Homo sapiens: one gene and its partners. The main gene of each other region encodes a partner of the protein of the gene in region 2 in a complex. Each region holds a gene or a part of one and is shown on either strand. Other genes may lie near its edges. A codon is read from its position in the direction of its gene.

Region 1 (7,297 bases), on a different chromosome or scaffold from region 2:
ATAATTTATATAAAGTACTCAAAAAAGTCCATGATCCAAACAAAGTAAAGAATCAGTAATCTAACAATTCTCTCACTCTATTAGCAAGGCCAATGACATGCAAAGTAGTCAACTGGATTAACAAGATTAAGACAGTACCATCAGTTCTTATTACCACAAACGTGTATAGTGAATGCCAGAAAATGACCAGACTCATCAAAGGGATAGAGGCGTCCACAAAACCATTTCACCCCCTACCATGCAACAATGAAATTCCTTTAAAAGCATGTTTATAATATCAGTTGCACACTAGAGGAGTCAGAGGAGTGGGTTATTTTCAAGGGAAAGTAAGCTCCCTTAGTTTACTTTGAAGTTTGTTTTTCTGATTTTGTACTGATACCATTTTCTTAAAACAAAGTGGATCTATATCTTTAAATATTAGTCTTACATTAATGATAAACTTGATGCTCCAAAATTTTTTTTAAAAATCTATATTTGAAAAATTTAGATTACTTGACAAATAATTTGCTGACCAGGGAAAAAGTCTCTGGTATAAAGATACTGTTTAAAGGACAATATGTCAATAGATTCTCGAAAACAATCTTGGTAAATAGGCAGGTGTTGTTAGTTTCCATTTTACAAAATAAAATAGGTTAAGTAACTTTCCAAGATCACAGAACTGTTACCAGGTAGCACCAGGACTAGGCTCACCCACTCTGACCCCATGTCCGGAGTTCTTCCTGCTTCACCACACTGCTTCCATTCACAAACATGGTACAAAACAATTTAAGTGCCACACAAGAAACCGTTTTTAAAATCATGTTGGTAAACTACTATTAATACCAAAATAATGTTTTCAACAATTCACAAAGAAAAACTTTCCACCAGACTTGAAAAATTCTACGCTGAGCCCTGGCCTAAAATTTCTGGAAAGTACAATACTAAACAAAAAGAAAAAAAGTTGAAATAATTTGCATAGATCAATGATGAATCATCAATACTGGAAAAACATTATTCCAGGTGTATGGCTGCCTATTAATGGATTGATATTATTACTTTCAGGTTAAAAAAGAGTTATAAGTGATTATGAGCTTCGTGAATAAAAATCAAGGTTCATGTTGGCCACTGAAACAACTTAGAGGCAACAAGCATTTGAAAACAAACACACATACAAAATCTTCTAGTAACCTTAAGAACCTGTTGCATTGTAACAACTGCAACACCCCCTAAAACCAAATGACAAGACCATTCCTCTTCCAATGATTAGCCGTAAAAGAAGTATTTTTACTCCCTCAGATAACCCTGTTTCTTCAGGTGCTTAGGTCACGTAAGCTACTAAATAATAAAGTTAAATTACTACCTCACATATTTTTCATCATATGCTCTCTTAATTAGAATAGCATTCTTGAAATAGAATAAGCACTAACATTAGAAAAAAACAGACTTAAATCAATGCAACAGTTTAATGCTCCCTAAATAAAAACACATCTACATGTATCATGGGCTAGAGACGTTAAAAATTTCTAGGAAGAAAAGCAATATTTGCCTTATAAACACTGCAACTCTTTCCTCTCAACATTAAAACCCAAACATAGAAACCAGTAAGTTAGCTGCATTTACAGCCCCTTACAGGTTTTAAATGTCACATCTCAGTGCCTAAAAAAGTTACTCCATCGTTTCGAGATAAGTTTCTGAGAACAAAGAAAACTCTTTAAACTACTGAACTGCATTTTATTCTTTCCTTTTCCGTGTGACCATCTGCAAAAGCAACAGTTGTCAGTTAAACAGAATCAACCTCTTTCCCGAGTGGACATGATTCACAGCTTGGTCACTGTACAGCAGATGTGAACTGAGAACTACGACATAACACAATGACAAAACACAGTACTGAGCACAAAGTACAGGGAAAGAATGAAAGACAGAAAACAGGAAGAGCACACGTCTGATTTTTGTTTTCTTTGGGGCCCCCATTAGTAGCATTCCCTTCATCCATCTTCATTCAGTGGTTCACTATCAGGGCCAAACCCAAAAGTTACAAAACACCATCTAGCTACTGTCTGGCTGCTTTTATTTTTTCTGCACCAGGACGGGAGCACGCATTCCCCTGCAGTCCTCAGCTCCACCGCAATACTGATACCAAACAGTTTCAGTGGCCCAGCTGCCAAGCCTAACCATTCCTTTTTAAAGCATTTCTTCATCAATCCTACAAAACAGCAAGTTCTTCATGGTATATTTTCCTAGAGCATCTAGCTAATATCATACTTTAACAACTTTTTCCAACGTTAACTGGACATGGGTCATTATCACTTAAGTGTTAGCGCCATTGCCCGCGCCCACTCCCATAATCCACACTGCTTTCCTTCTCCATATTGCCAATCCCCACTAAGCAACCCTAAAATCTAGTAATTATCATCAAATCCACTTCTAGGCCCTGGCAAGAATTATTTGGCTTTACCGAAACACCTATTCCATAGGTAACCAATTCCAGTCAAAAATGCCAGAGTATTACTCCTCAACCCAATGCCCTATCTCCTTAGTGGATTATAAACTTACTACGACAACCTGTCTTCTTTGGATCCAATCCCCGCCCAAGTCTGAGTCTTCTCTCCCAGGCTACAAGCCCCCAAGTCCTGGCAGCTCTATGCTTGACAGCTCGCTGACCTCCACCTCATCAGACCATTGGGTCGCCCTTCTCGCCGTCCTCCAGCCTTCTTCCCGCTCAGACACTCATCCACTGTCCGGGGAGCCTCGACCCCTCCTATACCCCCTCCCCGATCCCGCAGTCCCCTTCTGGACCTTGCGGACCCCTCTCAGGTAAGCGGAGCCCCTTGCCCTGCAGGCCCATCAGTGGTCCTGGCTCCCCGCACCTGCCACCAGGGTTCCCAGGCTGCAAAAACACAAGTAGTTCTTCTTCCCAAGGGCCACCCTCCTCCTCAGGCCGCTTTCCTCAGCACCACGTCACCCGCGCTTCGCCGGGAGACCCCCAACTCACCCCCGCCTCCGCCATCTTCTGGGACCAGCCCCCGTACCCCCTACCGCCTCTTCCTCCTCCACTCCCACAACTCCGCCCGAGCTCCACTGCGCCTGTGCGGCCAACGAGGCCGCGCGCAGGCGATCGGGGCAGAAGAGCTTCCGGTTCCTGCTGTCAATAAGACGTGGACCTGCGAGCCGGGGCAAAAGGGCTTCCGGTCTGCGGGAAACTGGAGGCTAGCGGTGGGCGTGGACCGTCGAGGTGACTGGCGGTTGTCGGATCTGCTGTTGTTTGCTGACCAGGCAGCCGTAGGTAATGACGGATGCCCAGACCCTGTGGGCGGAGTAAAGGAATCATGCACTGATACACGCACACTCACCGAGGGGCGCGTCCGTCTGCGTGCCCCTCATCTCGTAGCCGAAAGGAGCGCGTTCCGGGGCAGGCCTCCGGGTACTTCCCGCAGAGGACCGGGCTTTATACTCTTTGCTCCTTTTCCTCCCCTAGTAAGTCATAACTTATTTTGGGAGAAGGGCATAGTTATTTGTCTCTCGTCTCCATGCTACAGCACTTTATGTGCTTTTCATTCAAAATCGTTCCTCGAGGACGACCAAGTAATGTGATTTGGGGGACAGTTTTCATAGGAAGGGCTTTATAAGTTTACACCAACATAAAGAAAACTTAAAAACCTTATAACCGCTTATTTTTCAGAAGTATTATTTTTCATTTAATCTAAAACCATACTTTTAGAACATGAAACCAAGCCAAACAGATCTTTGCAGATTGTGCAAGCGAACTTTTTTTTTTGAATGAAAGTGGTGCCATCAATGCAAAAGCAAGCCCATATAAGTGCCGAAAGGTACTCGTCATAAGGAGGAGTTGCTTCCCTATTCTGAATTTTTATTTATTTTTATTTATTTATTTATTTGAGACGGAGTCTCTCTCTGTCACCCAGGCTGGAGTGCACTGGCATGATCTCGGCTCACTGCAACCTCTGCCTCCCGGGTTCAAGTGATTCTTCTGCCTCAGCCTCCCCAGTAGCTGGGACTACAGGTACATGCCACCATGTCTGCCTACTTTTTGTATTTTTAGTAGAGATGGAGTTTCATCATATTGGCCAGGCTGGTCTCAAACTCCTGACCTCGTGATTCGCCCGCCTCATCCTCCCAAAGTGCTGGGATTACAGGCGTGAGCTGCCCCCTGAATTTGTTTTTTTTAAGCAACTCTTTTTAAAAAGAGAGAAAAAATAATCTCTCTTGAGTGTATTAGTTATTGAGCTATTCCATTTGGAGGTGGCTTAACCCAAAACGTGTATGGATGTGGTAAGATTACAATGGACTTGAATGTTCTAGATGAAATCTGGGCCGAGAGTAATTGCATAATAGTTTTCCAAAGGACTGTCAGATGGTAAACTCCTTTCATTTACTTTGAACTGATAAACGATAAGATGGATTTTTGTTTTTTGACCTTTTTATCTACATTTACTTCTGAAAATTGAAAAAGAATCTGAATTCCAACAAAATGTTTCTAGGCAAGTATTTGCATGATGCTTCTCTAACATTTCCTATATCTTAGTGTTTTCTCTAATGTTTTCTGTAGCTTTCAAATTTCACTCCTGTAAGTTTTTACACTACCAGTAAGAAAGATCTGGGCCAATTATACAGAATGGACGATGATTTTTAAAAGAATAGAGAAAGCATTCAGAAAAGAGACAATAATTTGAAAATGTTCTGACATCATGTATTTCCTTAAAGCAATACAAGTCCTGTATGTCCAGTTCATGTCTACTCCAACCGAGCTTTTTTCAGACACTTAGAAATTGCCTTCAAGAAAATCCTTATGGAACATTGTAACCTAGAGGGGCATTTATTTTCGTTTAAATATGTATTAATTGCAAGTAGTGACAGAACCTAAAAAGCAAAAACCATATAGCACCAGTTCCAAGGTTCCTATATCTAATGCAGTTACTCCTACTGCAGTACAAGGAGGAATATAAAATCCCTAGGAGAAATACAAAAGGCCATTGTCTTCTTTGACCAGATTTGAGGAAAGTTTTCATGGAAGATGTGGTCTTTCAGTGGGCGTTGAGGGTAAATATGCAGATATGGTTAGCCTGTGCATTCTGGTGGAAGCTCAGAGTTGGAAAAACATGAAACAGATTGCAGAGTCTGGCATGTACAAAGAGGTATGGTGAGACATGTGAGTTCTAAACATCAGGCTCATGAATTTGGACTAAATTTTTGTTATGGAAACATGGAAATCCTAAATTAATTGATGCCAGAATATAAATTGGTTAAGAACATCAAGAAATCATAACAACTGAGTTATTTTGAAGTTGGTGTAATGTGGTCAATGGAACGCTGGTGAATGATCCTTGAAACCTGGATTGTATTTTAGCACTAAGACAGTATGCGTGTAATCACTTGCAATAAATTCATTTTTTTAGGCTTTCTTCTTTTCATCTGTAAAATGAGAGATTGGTTTAGATGATTTCTGAGGTCTTTTTTATAGGTAGAAGTATCAACAATTTGATAATTCTTGACCTCAAGAAAGGTTTTTTCCATTAGCTTTATATGTTGTTTGGTCTCCCAACCAAGAAGATCAAAGATAAGTTAGAAAACAAAAAGCCCTTTACTTAGCTAATACAAACACCCACAAAAGTTTATTGACTTTGTTGGAGTGAGATATTGTAGGAGTCACATTAATTATTGCCTACAGGTTGATGACTAAGCCATTCAGTAAGCCTCTAAGAACCTTGGACTTGGAAACATTACCCAAATTAAAAACATCCAAGATAATTTTTTTACTATTGCAATTTTCCTATTCAGTAGCTAGAACCCCACACACTACAGACCATTCTACTTTTTTGGTTTTGGTTTTTGTTACGGTGTTTTGATGTGAAATATGTTTGAGGGACATAGAAAGTCAAGGAATTTTGCTTTTTTGAGAGATCAGAATGGATTATTTACTAAGCCAGCTATCACCTGAGCACCTGGCAGGTACCAGACACTTGGCACTGGACTTTAGGAGGAAATCAATACAGACAAGCCACATTCCTTTGTGAAGCTAGAGTCCTGTGGGGGAAACACAGTAAATGGTGGAATTCATATGTAATTACAAACTGAGACAAGTGCCATGAAGATGGAACATCTCCATATTGTGATGGAGAATAAAGGGGAATACCTGGAGACCATGCGTGAGCTGAAGATTGAGAGGGATCTGCTAAGAGCAGGATGAAGAACAGGTGTGAGGGCACAAAAGCTGAAAAACTTGGTGCATTCTGGGAATTGAAAGAAAGGCAGAGCTGGGGGTAGCAATTGAAAAGAAAATTGCAAATTGAAGTTGTATTTTAACATCATGATTGATGGTAATCACTTTCTGTGTGCCAGGCACTGTGCTAAGTTAAATCTCATTTCACATGCTCAAAACCCATTTGAAATAGATACCAAATAGCAGATGAGAAATTAAGGCTAAAAGCAGTGATTCTTAACTTTGGCTGCATATTAGGATCACCCATAGATTTATTAAAAGTTCTAGTGCCCGAGCCCCACCTGAGCGTTGAGAATCACTGACTTAGTGTTAATCAGTCCAAGGTCACTTCATAGCTAAGTGGCAGAGAAGGCAGAAATTGAACCTAGATCTATTGGATTCTAAACCCTATGCTCTTAGTCACTCACTAGTGCCCTGTCAACATTCACAAGCACGTAGTAAGCAGCAGTTACATGTGGGAACTCTGTTAAACACTGAGACACAACAATGAATAAGACAGATCTCTTGCCATCAATAAATTCACAGCCTGGAAATGCAGAAGTTAGGTCAGCCCACCTCTACAGAAGCAAGTCAACTGAGAACTCTCAATGAGATCAGATATATTTTTCCTATTTTAAGCTAGATTGATGTAGGCAACTGATGACAGGGAATCTACGTGGGCAGCTAGTGCGATTGTCTGCTGAGAGGTGGTGCAAACTTAACAAAGGCAATGGCAGAGGATACAAAGAATCATCAGGACTTGATAACTGCTAATGTTAGGAGTGAAGAAAAGAAGGTGGAAGTTGATTTCAAAGTTTTGAGCCTGAGAGACTGAGTGAAAGTAACATCATTGATCTAGAACAAGAGTACAAGAATTGAATTTCAGGTTGAGTGAGTTTGAAATACTTGTTGAACATTCGGGTAAAAATGTCCAGTAGAGCAGTGGAAATGTGCATCTGGAGTTTGAATCCCCAAATTGGTCTAGAAATGAAGATCTGGAATTATTGACTTAATAGGAGGTAGTTGAAAACATGCCTTGCATAAAGCGTATGCTGTGTTTGGAATTTTTTAAAAGACAATAGAGATACGAGAAAGAAAAGA
Region 2 (7,107 bases):
TCCGCAGCTTCACCTCCAGGTCTACCGGGGTTGAGACCACAGACTTGGTGAGCACCAACACATTCTCTAACCCAATAACCACCACAAGGTAGGGGAAAATCTCGCTGGGGACAGAGAAGGAGAAGGTGAGGACAGTGTTGTGGTGGTTCCCAACAGACTGGGGCCCTCAGGAAGGCTGTGGGGTTTCCAGCCTGTCATGGGGGCTGCTGAGTGACTCCCACAGGTGCTGGGCAGAAACCCTCCCTTGTCCACCTCACCCAACAAGACCTGCATCTACACAGCACTCAGCTTTCAGGCAGGCTCCAGAGCCTTGCAGAGGGGCCAGCAGCCATCCTGTCTCTAGCCATCCAGCACAGGAGGGCTGGAAGAGGCCCCTCAGGGAGAGCTGTGCAGCGCCACTGCTAGACCACACTTCTGCTGGCCCTTCCCAGGAGAAGACTGCTGGCTAAAGACAATGACTGCTGCCAAGACCCACACCAGTAACTCTGGGTGGACCCATCACAGCTAAATGCAAGGAGATGAAACCATCCTGAAGGCCCACTCACCTTTGTTGAGAAGCTGTGTGTGGAGAAGAACGACTGTTCCTACACAAAGCTCTACCAGCTATCTGAGCCCACTGTCCCACACTCCCCGCAGCAAACCCTAAGAAAGTCTATGTGCGAGGAACGCCAGCCAAGTTATACCTTGCAGGACCTCTGCTTTGGAGCCGAAGGAAGGGAGGGCCCTGTGAAGGGTATGGCAGACGGTATGGGGGAGGGTGGTGTTTAACAGTGTCAAGCTCAGGAAAGGGAGCAGGTATCTAAGAGCAACGAAACTACCAGAAACAAAATACGACGTCGCTTTTCATACGACCAGCCTGATGGGCCAAAGTGGTGGACAGGCCAATCCATAATCCATTAATAACCATTAATAGACAGGCAGGCGGGCCTAGCCAGAGCCAAGATCAAAGCCTGAGGACAAGCCGAGGGAAGGGCTTCCAGACTAAGGTTCAGAGAGGAGTGGCAAGGGGAAAGTAAACATCAGTGAAAAAGGCGACAAATTACAGTGTGCTCATATCTTCCAAAGAGCTTCCTCTAAAATGACCTATTTCATTAGGCATTTAAATGTTCTAATCATGAAAAAAAAAATGTTCTCTTCTCTATCTCACACCTCCAGTGGCTTAAGCCATCAAGCTGCAGTGTGTGTGTGGTGTGTGTATATAGAATACATAAACACAGACACACAAATCCGACTACACACATGCAATACATACTCATGTATACACAAACATACCAACACACACCCCTTATATACACACCCAGCCCACAAATATGCACTTTTGTACATATGGACACTCACTATAGCTAGATATGCTATATACAAACACAAGTATGAATACAAGCCAGACAAAGAAGAGGAAGAAAATGTACCTCTTAAATGTCAAAAACAACAATGTGAAGACGTGAGGTCACAGCAAAGTCCAGGGAAGGCCAAGAACCCAGAAGTGCAAGGCTCTCTGGCCTGAGCCCACCCTGTGGCCCAGTGGAGCCTGCTAGGGACCTACCCGCCATTGAGGGTGGGCGTCAGGCCGAAGAGTGTGCAGAGTCCCACAGACATGAGCAGCGAGCTGAGCACTGTGACCACGGCAGCCAGGGCCAGCCCCCACTTGGACTTGACCATGTCGATCTTCCCTGGAGGGCAGAGAGGGCGTATCAGGGCGGCCCCTCCCCCAGCCCCCGGCCCACTGGGGCTCCCGGGAGTAGGTTGCCCTGACAGTCGAGGAAGGGAAAACTCCTGGTTTCACCAAAGGAAAGGGACAGGCACAAGCACTTCCCAGTGTCATGGACACAGTACACCTTTTAGGAACCCTAACCCAGGAAGGGGCTGAAAGTGGGAAGAGCCCCGGCCCCACCCAAGCTCCTAAGACCCTGCTGGGGGACAAAGCCCTAGCTCTGATGACCACCAGGTGTGTTCTATCTCTCTACCCCAAGCCACCTCCAGAGCCAGGGAAGCAGGTGACATGGAAATGCCCGTTTAGCTTGGAGAAAGCCCTCAGCCTCCCTGCCATGAACCTACGCGTGGAGAAGTAGATGTAGGCAAACAAGATGATGTAGGTGGTCACAAGGGGGATGAGCTCAGCGACACCAATCTCCTCCTTGAAGTGCACGTGGACCAGGCTCTCCGCCCGAAGGCTGCAGTTGGGGCTGGGGTGCAGAAGCATCAGGCGGGCACGCAGGCTGCCCAGGAACCTGGTCAAGGAGCAGGGTGGGGGTAAATGGAAGTGTTGCTCTTGGTTCTGGGGACAAAGACAATCCCCGGACAGAGGGTCCATCAGGACCTCCCTCCTGCCCCTGTGTTGAAAGGGAACTTCTCTATGGTGCCTGAGCTTCTCTATAGTCTCCAGGGGCACTGGGAAAATCACAAAGGGGACAAAGTTTTCTCAGGAGCTCCCCCTGCTCCTTTCTTTGTCTCCCTTTCCGGACCTACTCCAACACTCTCTTTTTTATTTATTTATTTATTTTATTTTTTATTTTTTGAGACAAGAGTCTCGCTGTCGCCCAGGCTGGAGTGCAGTGGCGCCATCTGGGCTCACTGCAAGCTCCGCCTCCTGGGTTCACACCATCCTCCTGCCTCAGCCTCCCGAGTAGCTGGGACTACAGGTGCCCACCACCACGCCCGGCTAATTTTTTGTATTTTTAGTAGAGACGGGGTTTCACCGTGTTAGCCAGGATGGTCTCGATCTCCTGACCTCATGATCCGCCTGCCTCGGCCTCCCAAAGTCTGGGATTACAGGCGTGAGCCACCGCGCCCGGCCTCCAACACTCTTGATTGCCAGAGGCCTAGGAGAGCCGATCAGAAGCACCTCGAGTGCCCTTGCCAATTGGGGAGCTGCCTGCAGTGCCCCACTGGGAAGGACACAGGCCATATAGGGTGCTCAGTAGTAACCAGCTGGGGATGCCTGCCCTAGGCTCAAGAGAGACCAGAGGAGGCACCAGGACACTGAGACCGCCAGCCCTACCTTAGTCCCCTATGCTTAACCAGCTGTCAGGTCATCCCCATTAAAATGTGGTAGACAGCATCATCTAGTCTGAGGGATGTAAACATTCAACAGGAGGCCTGGAAACTCTCCCAAGTTTCCAGGGGGCATTCAGAACACTCTAACCAGAAGAGGGACTACTCAAAGCCTCATGTCACCCAGCAGACCAGTCAAGAGCCCAGGGTACTGTCAATCTTACTTGGCATGGTAGTGCTGGAAGACCAGGGTGATGGTGTAGGAGACCATCCTCTTCCTGGTGTAGAGGCTCACCCCGCTGTACTTCCCAGGAACACCAAATAACAAGTCTGCAAGCAGAAACCAGCAGGTACTGACACAGAAATGACAGCTACTGCAGAGCCACCAAGGACCCCTTTCTCACCCCCACCCTGGGAAACAAAGGGTAAACCCTGATCTGCCTAAGCACACATCAAAAAGACGGTGACCAATGGGCACCTTTACAGGTCTGAAGGGAACTTGTACTGGGGCTACCTTTGAGTGTGGCTGAAGTCTGCAGGGTTTTAGGCTCGTGCTGGTGGATGGTCCCAATGATGTCAGGATCAGCATGGAAGCGTTCCCAGTCATTCTGCCAGAAGTTCCCAGGGGACAGCAGCAGGCATCCATGCTCAGGGAGTAGGTTCCTGAGCTTCCTAAGGCCTGGCAGCAGGTCGGTCACTTGCAGACACAACTCCTCCAAGCTCCTGATCCCAGAGCTGCACAGGAGACAGGACAAGGCACCTGCTGTGTCTGCCACCACAGGGCAGACCTGCTGTACTTAGGGGACATCCTCTGTCTGTTCTTCAATGCCCCATATTTGCTCTCTGGTATCGCCAAAGAGCCTGACCACTAGGGCAGCAGGGGGAAGTACTTCCAGGTGGCCAATAACCTAAACATGTGGCTGTCTGACTTTCAAAGTGCATCTGAAGCCCAAAAGCCCATCAGCTCTGAGGACGGGCAAGTGTACTATAAGAGCATGCACAACCCCACCCACTAAAACACCCTGGCCAGTTCAGTGGATGAGCAGGGACCGGGGTAAATTAGGGGCTTCATTTAGTTCACCAAAATATCTGTCAACGCCACTAGCTAACTAAAACCTGGCAGTGATGCAGCTTGCCAATTACACACATTGTATGCCAAGCCAGCATAACCCAGGGACCCACTGATAGGCAGGGGAGCACGACTTGGGCTGGGGCTTCAGAAGGTACCCCCAGGTAGAGCTTGCTTCTCGTCGGCAGAGACACCACCATTACATTCACACCATAACCCACAGGCAGGAAGCCATGTGGGTCATGAGTTAGCACAGTGGACACTGACTCCATCTGAGATGTAAGGATGAGACTCAAGGCTATGTGTGTGCCATCTGCATAGGTCCAAGCGGAATGCAGCCACCGTAGACCCACAAGGATGCTGAGAAATTCAAGGCTAGCTCACCCTCCATCCTTCTTGCTTGTTCTATCTCTGCAGAGCTGACTGGCTCACTGCAGTTACACTGAGGACTGTAACTCTCCCTTCAGTACAGAATGGGATTCAGGGAGGCCAGGGTCCCTGAGAGGGGTACCTGTCTCTCAGCACGTGGTTCCGGATCTCCTCCACCAGTTGGAATGCCCGGGACAAAGGTGAACGAAATACATCTACTGCCAGGAGGTTCTTGTGCCAGGGAAACACTGAGGACTTCACAAATATCTGCTGGACATAAGCCACCGGGGCACCCACATACTGCAGAAGAAATGAGGGAGGGCAGAAAGGGCAGCTGAGCACAGGAAGAAGAAAGACGGTCCAATTCAAGGGATTTAATGGGCATTGGAAACCGTGCCCCACAGAGTTAAAGAAACCAATGACTAATACAAGTTCTTGAGTTTGCAGGATGGCAGATAAGAAAAGAAACAATTTGCTGAAACCCAGAAACTCCCTCCGCTTATGAGATAAAAGAACTGGCTGAAATAAGCTGGAACCAAGATGGCCGACTGGAGTTGTGCAGAATGAGCTTGCCGATGTCACAGCCTGAATTTCCACTGCCATGTTTCATACTAACTCCCCCCGGAATTTGCACATGGGACCTGTGAGGTGGCATCAAGAGATAACTGGGCATGCTCAAAGACTTCCCAGAAATCACCCTTCCTTCCATCAATCATCTGCTAATCCTAGTATCCACCCTCTAAACCTTTCCTAATAAAATTACTGCCTTAAAGCCAGCACAGGGAGACAGATTTGAGCTGGACTCCGGTCTCCTAGGGAGTCAACCTTCAATATAAAGCTTTTCTTTTCCCCAAATCCTGGTGTCACAGTATTGGCTTCTAGCACATTGGGCAGCGAGCCTCTTTTGCTCAATAACACATCTACTATGGGCAAAGCACTGTGGGACCAGGTGTAGGCAAACGATGGCCTGTAGGCCAAATCAGGGCCCATGCCTGTTTTTCTTTTTGAGACAGGGTCTTGCTCTATTGCCCAATCATGGCTCACTGAAACCTCAATCTCCCAGGCTCAAGAGATCCTCCCACCTCAGCACCCCCACCCACCAAGTAGCTGAGACTAGAGGTGTGTGCACCACCACCACGCCTAATTTTCAAAAATGTTTTGTAGGGACAGGGTATCACTATGTTGCCAGGCTGGTCTCGAACTCCTGGGCTCAAGTGATCCTCCCATTTTGGCCTCCCGAAGTGCCACACCTGGCTAACTTCTTTATTTTCTGTAGAGATGGGGTCTCACTATGTTGCCCAGGCTGGTTAGTGCCTGTTTTTCCACTTCCAATTTTTACTGAAGCACAGCCACACCCCTACCATTACTATTGTCTATGGCTGCTTTCACTCTACAACAGCAGGGTCAAATGGCTGCAACAGAGGCCGTCTGGCCCGCAAAGCCTAAATGTTTACTATCTAGCCCTTTATGGAACATGTCTGCTGACCGCACTATAGACTCTACACTCCCCAAAGCATGTAACCTGTCTTACTGATTCAGGTTTTGTCACTTGCAGCAGAGTAGCGGGTTTTGAAGATCAAAGGACCCAATTTTAAATCACAGCTTTCCAAACATATGGCCTTGAAAACACTTTTGACATCTCTGGATTTCAATTTCCTCATTGTGAAACAGGAATAACGACATTCACCCTGCAGCATCAAGATGTATGCACACACCACACACGCATACAAACAGTGTCTGAAAGATTAGCAGAAATATTAACAATGAACAATCAGGCATTTCACTTCATCTGACCCTCACAACAGCCTGATGAGAAGCAAGGAGAGGCTCAGGCATTGTGCCTGCCTAGAGCTTCACACTCCAGGCAGGGTGGTGTAAGGACTCAAACCAAGGTCTCCTCACTAAATATCACATACTTTTCTCACTAGAATCTGCCATCTACCTTTCAAGAGCTTAACAGGGATGTAAATGACAAGAGTGTTCACATATGCAACCCTCAGTAACAGGCATGTCGCGGAGCACCCCAAAACATGCTGGGTCAGCCACAGCAGAGTTATGGCCCAGGAGAAGCTGAGTAGAGCCATAAGGTTAGAAAAGAACAGGTAGGAGAGGAGCAGGAGGGAATGTGAGTTGCAAGGGATGCTGAGAGCACAGAAGGCCTGGACATCTGCACCAAGGAAACCTGTCAGGGGATAACAGAAATTACGAGGAAGATGACAAGCAGGCTTAGACTGAAGCCTGACTGAGCTGTCAGGATTTTAATCAGTTGACAAAGCAAAGCCCAGTGTCTCTGAGGTGAAGGGGCAACCTGATGAAAGCAGTGCTCTGTAAAGACTCCCCGGGAGTTGGTGACAACTGGAGACAAGGAAACATGGCCCTAGACAGCGGTGTACTGCGAGGTGTGGACTGAAGGGGGCAGGGCCCAGCCCAGCTGAGGGATGAGGGGCTGTCTCCACGCCTGGGCTGCAGTCGGGAACTCCAAGGGGCATGCGTGTGGATGAAAGGGAGGCCATGGAGCCACTCACCAATGCAGTACTCCAGGTTACAGCATAGGCAAGGGCCAAGATGCTGACCAAGCACAGCAAGTTAATGCCTCCTGGGACCCTGGGCACAAAGGAACAACCAGAGGCAACCGTCTGAGCCTTTGTGAACTTTATGTGGCTGTGCCTTAGTGAGGG
Region 3 (6,978 bases), on a different chromosome or scaffold from region 2:
TTTTTATTTTTATGTACTGAAATTTTTCAGATTTTTCCTTGGAACTTCTGGGTCTTCTGTTATGTTTAAAGCCTTTTCCCACCTCAATGAATTATCACCATATTAGTAATACTATTAAAACAAACTCCTAGGCTTGCATTTTCTGCCTTGGATTTAAATTTGCTAACTCAGCATTATGCTGCTCTGGGTTGAGTTTCGTTTAGTATTTAACATCCCTTAAAACACAGCTTTATGTTCTTCAATATTCCATATATTGTCATAGAATTTTATTTGGATCTCCAAAATGAGTTGCTTTATTTTCTAACCGGTTGAAATCTCAAATTAGTTTGATATCAAATGAAGGTACAGTTGTAGCACCATTTTGTAGGTAGAGGGGAGTAAATACTTCTACCACCACACATAAAACTGGTAATGCTTTTTACTTAGAGATTTCCATTTTTACACATTAATTTTAAAGAAAAAAGTGAGGTTGACAAGTGGTAAGACTTATACACAGTAGTACTGAGAAGTCTACAACTACAAAAAAACTAACAAGGCAGAACGATTAATTTCAACTATCCATTGGCATATTTACACACAAACCTGTGTCTTTTAGTAACATAATTTTTTAGCACCGAAATCAGTTTTTTTCATTCTTATCATCCTTACAAATGTGAAAAATTAGCATAATTACATGACACAGTAAGAAGAGTCGGATGATAGATTTGAAGAGTATTTCGTATTTCTCAAAGTCTGATCCAGAGATTCCAGGGATCAAAATTTTCAAATAAACAACACCAATATTTTGCCGATGATTTCAAAAGACCAAAATATCTAACAAAATATGGTATTAAATGAAGCATTAAAATAGATTTATTGTCTTTAACACCCTATGAAACAGATAACCTCACTCTCCATCTTTTAAAAGGTAAAAATAAGAAACCAAAGCACTGAGCAGTTGCCTTAAGTCATGTTGTTCTTTGTCAAACACAAACTTCCAAGATTTATTACAAAAGAAACATGCCTAGTACAAGGAAAATATCAGATTGCTTTGTTCAATGTTCTTACACTACAAATTATTTAATTAAAGAAAATACTTCTTTTCCTTGAAGCTGCCTAACCTGAAGCTCAACAGACTACTGCATTAAAGCACCAGGTCCCAAAGGGATTCTCACAGAATCTGCAGTTATCATGCTGTAAGAATATTCAAAGCAGTCACTACACTGTTTCTGGGATGAACATGCAGAATCCTCTCAAACAGAGCCCAGTTTTTAACACAAATTATGGTGGTGGTATACGTTAGCAGTGGCAAGTAGGAAAGGCTGGAATTAGGTAGCAGGTGGGTTACTGAAGCAGCTTGGGCTGAACATCACGTTTACATCTTTAGTTTTAAGATCTAGCATATGATCATTACTACTGCATTCTGTATCTGGATTGCAGCTGTTAGGGAGGAAAGTAAACCATATTTAATGTCAAAAGATTTTTAAGCTCAGGCTCTGGCAACCACTTAGCGGCAGCCTACCAAGAGCAAAACACTTAACCTCTATGACCCTGTTTCCTGGTTTGTAAAATGACAATACCACCACCCACCTCTGGGGGATGTTTGAAGGTTAGGTTAGATAATACCTACCAGTGAAAATGCTTTGCAAAAGGAAAATACCAGATAAATGTAAAATATGGCTATTTATTGCTAAGAACAAAATTCGGCCTTTATTGCCACTCCTCTTTTGAAGGAATAAAGCAACAGATGGCTTGTAATTCAGAAAGGCTTGGTAAAGACCTCACCATCAGTCTGCCCTCAGCAACACTTCAAAAGCACTAGCCTACTTAAGACCGATCACCAGAATTACCTCATCAACAAAATTTGCCAAGTTACAATTACTTAAAAAATTATTTTACGCATAAATGCATCTCCCTCTGATGATGTAAGTGAAGATGGAAAGGAAGAAATGAAATATAAGATACTTTTAACACTCCATCCATACGAAACAAAGACAATGATTTTCAGAAGTCTCTTTGGCAAATGTCTCATCACTTTTTACAGTCACTTTCAATACCTTCTCGTTTATTCATGGAAAATTTTAGGACTCGATTTAAGCATCGCCGCTTTCATGAGAATTTTTGGTAATGGTTTCAAGGTCTGACATTCAAAACCCTGTCTCCTTCGCTTGGATGTCATTTACTGCAGACACTTCACGATCCTGTGGACCCTCGGGTGCAGCAGAAGTGACAACATACAAGTACTCGGCATTTGGTAATAAAGGGAAACTGAGGCCCACGCCTTGGCAGAAGTCCAAGGTCACACACGACGAGACTGGGATAGCAGAGTTGTTTTTCGAAGGCTGTCGCATAGGACGCGGTAAGCCAGTACTCATTTCCCAAGGCAAACGGGCAAAGAGCTGCATGCTCACACATCCTTACTTTCTCCCCACCTCACTCAGGTACAACACTGAATCCTCGCTAGGGGGACTGCTCCGCTGTCAACTCAGACAAGTATCATCTCCTTCCCCCTCCCAACCCGTAAAGACGACCCTTTGAGGGATGAAACTGTAGTTCCCAAAGACACATACTCGACCCATGGCCTCTGCGCGCCTGCCCGCTCCCCGGGGAACGTCTCGGCCCGCATAGCCGTCCCGGGACGTACGGTACCCTGTTCCCTTACCAAAGAGCCGGAGGAAGATCTGGAGCACGATGCAGAACCGGCTTTGGCTGGAATCCGGGTAGGAGTTGAAGATGGCGTCGATGATGTAAAGGCAGGGCACCCGGAGCGCCACTTCGAGCGCCGCCCAGACCTGCTGATGGGCCATCCGCACCTGCTGCTGCGGGGGCCCCACGGCCGCCATGAGCCGCTGCCACACCAGGGCTCGGTGGGCCGGGCAGGGCCGCGCGGGGCAGGGCCCGGGGCCGCGGCCGGGGGCGGGGGCTAAGGCGGGCAACTCCGCCCCTGCCCTCCTTCCTCTCCTGTCTCTCTCACGGCCAGCCCCGCCGCCCGCTCGCGTCCCTCGAGGTGGAGCAGGCGGCGGAGGCAGCGATGGCCGAGAGGGCGGCGGCGGCGGCTCCCCAGGAGGTCTCTGGGTTTCGGTGTTTCCGGCTGGCTAAGGTCTGACTCCTCCTCCCTCCACTGCCTCCCCCGCCCGCGGAGCCACCATCTTGACCTCGCCCGCTGGCCTCTGCCGTTGCTGCTGTGGCTAGGCCCGGAGGCTGCGCCGTCAGTCAAGCGAACCGCAGAGTCCGCGCCCACTGCCTGCGTCATAATCCAGCGTCATAATCCAGCGCTAGAGACGCTCCCCATGTCGTCATCACCCATGGTTGCCATGGTTTCCGCCCACCTCCTCAGCTTACTCTAGCTTCGTGCCACCCCGTGGCGCATGCGCTTTTCGGTAGCCGCGCTTTCCGGCGTTGGAGTTGCAGCTTCACCCTCGCAGATTCGGCTTAGCGAGCGAGTCGGTGCTTCCGCGGATCAAAATTATTAGCCGTTTTATTAGAGCCCATTAAACGTTGCATAAACATGGTTCAGAGCTGCCTGGGAGAAGAAAAGCCAAAGGATGCCACCCTCTCGATTTATCCCACCCTCGGGAGTCTGAAAGCCGACGCCAGGAGAAATCCCGCGAAGGCCGCCCGGGATCCTGGTAGAGGCGACGCTGTGTGCGTTTATGGAGCGCTTGCGGTGCGTGGCACTAGGCTGGGTGTGGTGGGTGCTGCCGAAAAAAGGGTTCCTCCCATCCATTTGCACGTCACCCTTCCCACCTCCTGCCCAGATGGACAGAAGTGAGGACATTCATCGGCCGCATTTTACTAATGGCAAGGAGATAGCGACTGAAGGGCAAGAACCTAGGGTTTCCTGTCTTTGATATTTCTCATCTTTGAGGTAAGTACACCTGGACAGTCCCTTCCTTCCTCCTCAGGGCTCATGCTTTCTTGCCTATCCGTGTAATTAATATGATCTGGCTATCTTTGTCTTTGTTCCGAAACTTCAGCTGCAAATGAAAGTGTAAGTTAGGTCTGAGTCTGCACTATAGACCTAGCTATCCTAGGTTAAAGGGGATAAAATAGGAATCAAGAAGCCTGGCCCGCTTGGGCTCCCAGCTCAAGTGCATTCTGCAATCCAGTTTATATTAGGCCTCCATGTGGGTGGCTATCCTTTATCAAGATCCCCCCCAGGGGGAGGAGGATTATTAGTCACATTATCAAACTCCCCTCCAACCCCTTTCTCTGCTTAGAGGTATGTGTAATGTGTAGTAGAAAGACCGAATCCCCACCCAAAAGTCCTTACTGCTACTCATGTTTTTAACCTTCTGTTCTTTACCCTACTCCCTAATAATGACCGCCATCATTTATCTACTGCTTAATGGATACTAGGCACTGTGCTAAGGGTTTTATGTTTTACTTCAATCTTTTCATCGGCTTTATTTTGATAGTTTGTTTTATAGAGGAGGAAACAGACTTAGGTAAGTTACAAGATGACAAGGTTACTACCTTGTTCAGTTAGTAGTCAGCAGCTAGTATATCCAAAGATAGTACGAGTCAGAACTAGGATTATAAACTCAGGGCTACCTGAAACTCACAACTTCAGGCATCTTTGATTTCTTCTTTTCACCCACAGCCAATTCTTCAACTAAATTGTATCCATTCTGTTTTCACCGTCTCTTGTACTGGTCTCCTTTCTATTGTAACTGTCATCATCCTAACTCAAGATCCTTCTGTAGCTTTCCCCGGTTATTGGAATATCCTTATTACGACTGCCACCTTTTCTAATCCAGTCTGTTTACTACTGCCGGGTTAATTTCCCCAAACTGCATGTCTGGGGAATAACCTTGTGGTTATGACAGAATTCCCAAAGGAAAGCAAACTTGGCAAGGTGCAAAGACTATGAAGACTTAGAACTTAAGAGTTCTATGGAGATCTTCAGAAATATAAATTAGCTACTCAACATATCTGTTATTCTGCCCTGATTGCACTGTAAAGCAAAAGGAGAGAGGCCATTATGGGGAAAAAGATCCAAAAGGACTCATCTAAAACACAAGTTGGGTAGAGGAGATAGGTGAGTACTATTATATTATGTTCATGGAAAATGAGTTCATGGGCTTTCCTCTAATTTTTATTTTAAAAATAAATGTAAATATTAAATAAAATTTTTTAAATGAACAAATGCTTCAGTCTTTATTAATGTTTTAACTGTCCCTGATCTTAATTTGATGTACAAATTTTATTAGTGTAAGAGTTTCTTTGACTAAATTCCATCTTGGGCCGAGAACTTTCAGGAGCGGTGGCAGTCTTTTTTTTTTTTCACACAGCTTCTCCAAGCAGGCTCTCTGCCAAACTTGTCCAACCCACCTTATTTTGTTACTGTTGTTGTTCTGTTTTGTTTTAGGCTGTTAACAGCCTGAAGCCATGGTTTTTAGTTTCTGTTTCTAGTGATAAGCGGAAAAGAGAGATGAGGAGGTATTTACTGACCCAACCAGAAGCGGAAACTAAGAACCCATGACTGTATTATCTCCCTTGGACACCCCTGTGTGAGCTCTCTTTCTCCATCTATAAAATGAAGGTTTGAATGAGGTCCTGGCAACTGTGTTAAAATACTACGTTAAAATTAAATTTATAGTAATGAGGTAATTTATAGGATGCTTAGGAATTTTTAAGATAAAAGATGTTTCCAGCTGGGTGTGGTGGCTTATGCCTGAAATCCCGGCACTTTGGGAGGCCAAGGAGGGTGGATTGCTTGAGCCAGAAGTTCAAGACGAGCCTGTCCAACAAGGCAAAACTATATCTTTACAAAAAAATTGTAAAAATAGCTGGATGTGGGCTGGGCGCGGTGGCTCACACCTGTAATTCCAGCACTTTGAGAGGCCGAGGCGGGCGGATCACAAGGTCAGGAGTTCGAGATCAGCCTGGCCGACATGGTAAAACCCCCATGTCTATTAAATATACAAAAATTAGCCGGGTGTGATGGTGGGCACCTGTAATCCCAACTACTTGGGAGGCTGAGGCAGGAGAATTGCTTAAACCCGAGAGGCGGAGGTTGCAGTGAGCCAGGATGGCGCCACTGCACTGCAGCCTGGGTGACAGAGTGAGACTCTGTCTTGGGGGAAAAAAAAATAGCTGGGCATGGTGGCATAGGCCTGTGGTACCAGCTGCTCAGGAGGCTGAGGTGGGAGGATCACTTGAGCCTGCCTTGAGCCTGGGTAGCAGAGGTTGCAGTGAGCCAAGATCACGCCACTGTACTCTAGCCTGGGTGACAGAGTGAGACCCTGTCTCAAAAAAAAGGTAATGTTTCCAAGAAATAGCTACAATTCACTGAATCTAATCTTTGCTTGATTTCTGCATTGATTTGAATGTTGCACAACTCAGGTGTACATTTATATTGAGTCTGCACAGTGTGGTTCATGAGTGTGTGTGTGTGTGTGTGTGAATACACACACACACAAACTGTATACATAGAATACTCGTGTTTGAAAATAACAATCTGTTATAAATCCTTCAGATTTAACAGCTCAGAAAGCCTTTTAGTAGCTTTCAAAACTTTTACAGGTAGGATGTGTAAAAACTAGTTTGAATTTTCTCTTGACATTTGCATTAATGAAGTCTTTGTTTCCTACAACAGAAACTGATTCTTCTGGGTTATCTTAAGCAAAAAGGGAATTTATTAAGGGGTTATTTTCATTATTCCTCAAGATTTCAAGTCCCAGGAGAGACCACCTATATTAGGCCATTCTTGCATTGCTATAAGTACCTGAGGCTGAGTAATTTATAAGAAAAGAAGTTTAATTGGCTCACGGTTCTACAGGCTGTACAGGAAACCTAGTGCCTGCATCTGCTTCTGGGGAGGCCTCAGGAAGCTTTTGCTCATGGTGGAAGGTGAAGTAGGATCAGGCACTTCACATGGCAAAAACAGGAGCGAGGGGGTGGGGATAGGTGTCACACACTTTTAAACAATCAGATCTCATGAGAACTCACTATGGTGAGGACAACACCAAGCCATCAGGGATCAGTCCCCATGAC

Evidence for each region.
Region 1: the proteins of SCAP (region 2) and INSIG2 are in contact, whole or in part, in a cryo-EM structure (PDB 7ETW), measured with the Homo sapiens proteins. Residues at the interface, in NP_036367.2 of Homo sapiens: Pro200 (codon at 3,539), Ser206 (codon at 3,521), Val282 (codon at 2,122), Ala283 (codon at 2,119), Glu284 (codon at 2,116), Ile286 (codon at 2,110), Pro287 (codon at 2,107), Thr290 (codon at 2,098), Ile294 (codon at 2,086), Ala297 (codon at 2,077), Tyr298 (codon at 2,074), Phe301 (codon at 2,065), Lys305 (codon at 1,668), Tyr351 (codon at 91), Val354 (codon at 82), Val355 (codon at 79), Glu359 (codon at 67), Thr409, Leu410, Val411, Ser638, Tyr639; in NP_001308258.1 of Homo sapiens: Phe41, Val45, Leu48, Leu49, Ile51, Val55, Leu57, Phe58, Pro59, Val62, Ser65, Ile66, Glu104, Trp105, Ser106, Met109, Arg110, Val112, Ala113, Val114, Val116, Gly117, His120, Gln132.
Region 3: SCAP (region 2) and RNF139 share a complex: the UniProt entries of both Homo sapiens proteins name them as parts of the SCAP-SREBP complex.

What each region holds. Positions count from the first base shown.
Region 1 is NC_000002.12:118,084,216-118,091,512, reverse strand, and holds the start of INSIG2 (insulin-induced gene 2 protein), read right to left. Parts: upstream 3,043-7,297; 5' UTR 2,972-3,042; exon of another isoform or gene 2,533-2,971; intron 1-2,532. UniProt on the Homo sapiens protein: Oxysterol-binding protein that mediates feedback control of cholesterol synthesis by controlling both endoplasmic reticulum to Golgi transport of SCAP and degradation of HMGCR.
Region 2 is NC_000003.12:47,423,942-47,431,048, forward strand, and holds part of SCAP (sterol regulatory element-binding protein cleavage-activating protein), read right to left. Parts: intron 4,730-7,107; coding exon 4,572-4,729; intron 3,727-4,571; coding exon 3,506-3,726; intron 3,322-3,505; coding exon 3,216-3,321; intron 2,229-3,215; coding exon 2,056-2,228; intron 1,671-2,055; coding exon 1,544-1,670; intron 105-1,543; coding exon 1-104. UniProt on the Homo sapiens protein: Escort protein required for cholesterol as well as lipid homeostasis.
Region 3 is NC_000008.11:124,470,954-124,477,931, reverse strand, and holds the start of RNF139 (E3 ubiquitin-protein ligase RNF139), read right to left. Parts: upstream 3,053-6,978; 5' UTR 2,823-3,052; coding exon 2,642-2,822; intron 1-2,641. UniProt on the Homo sapiens protein: E3-ubiquitin ligase; acts as a negative regulator of cell proliferation through mechanisms involving G2/M arrest and cell death.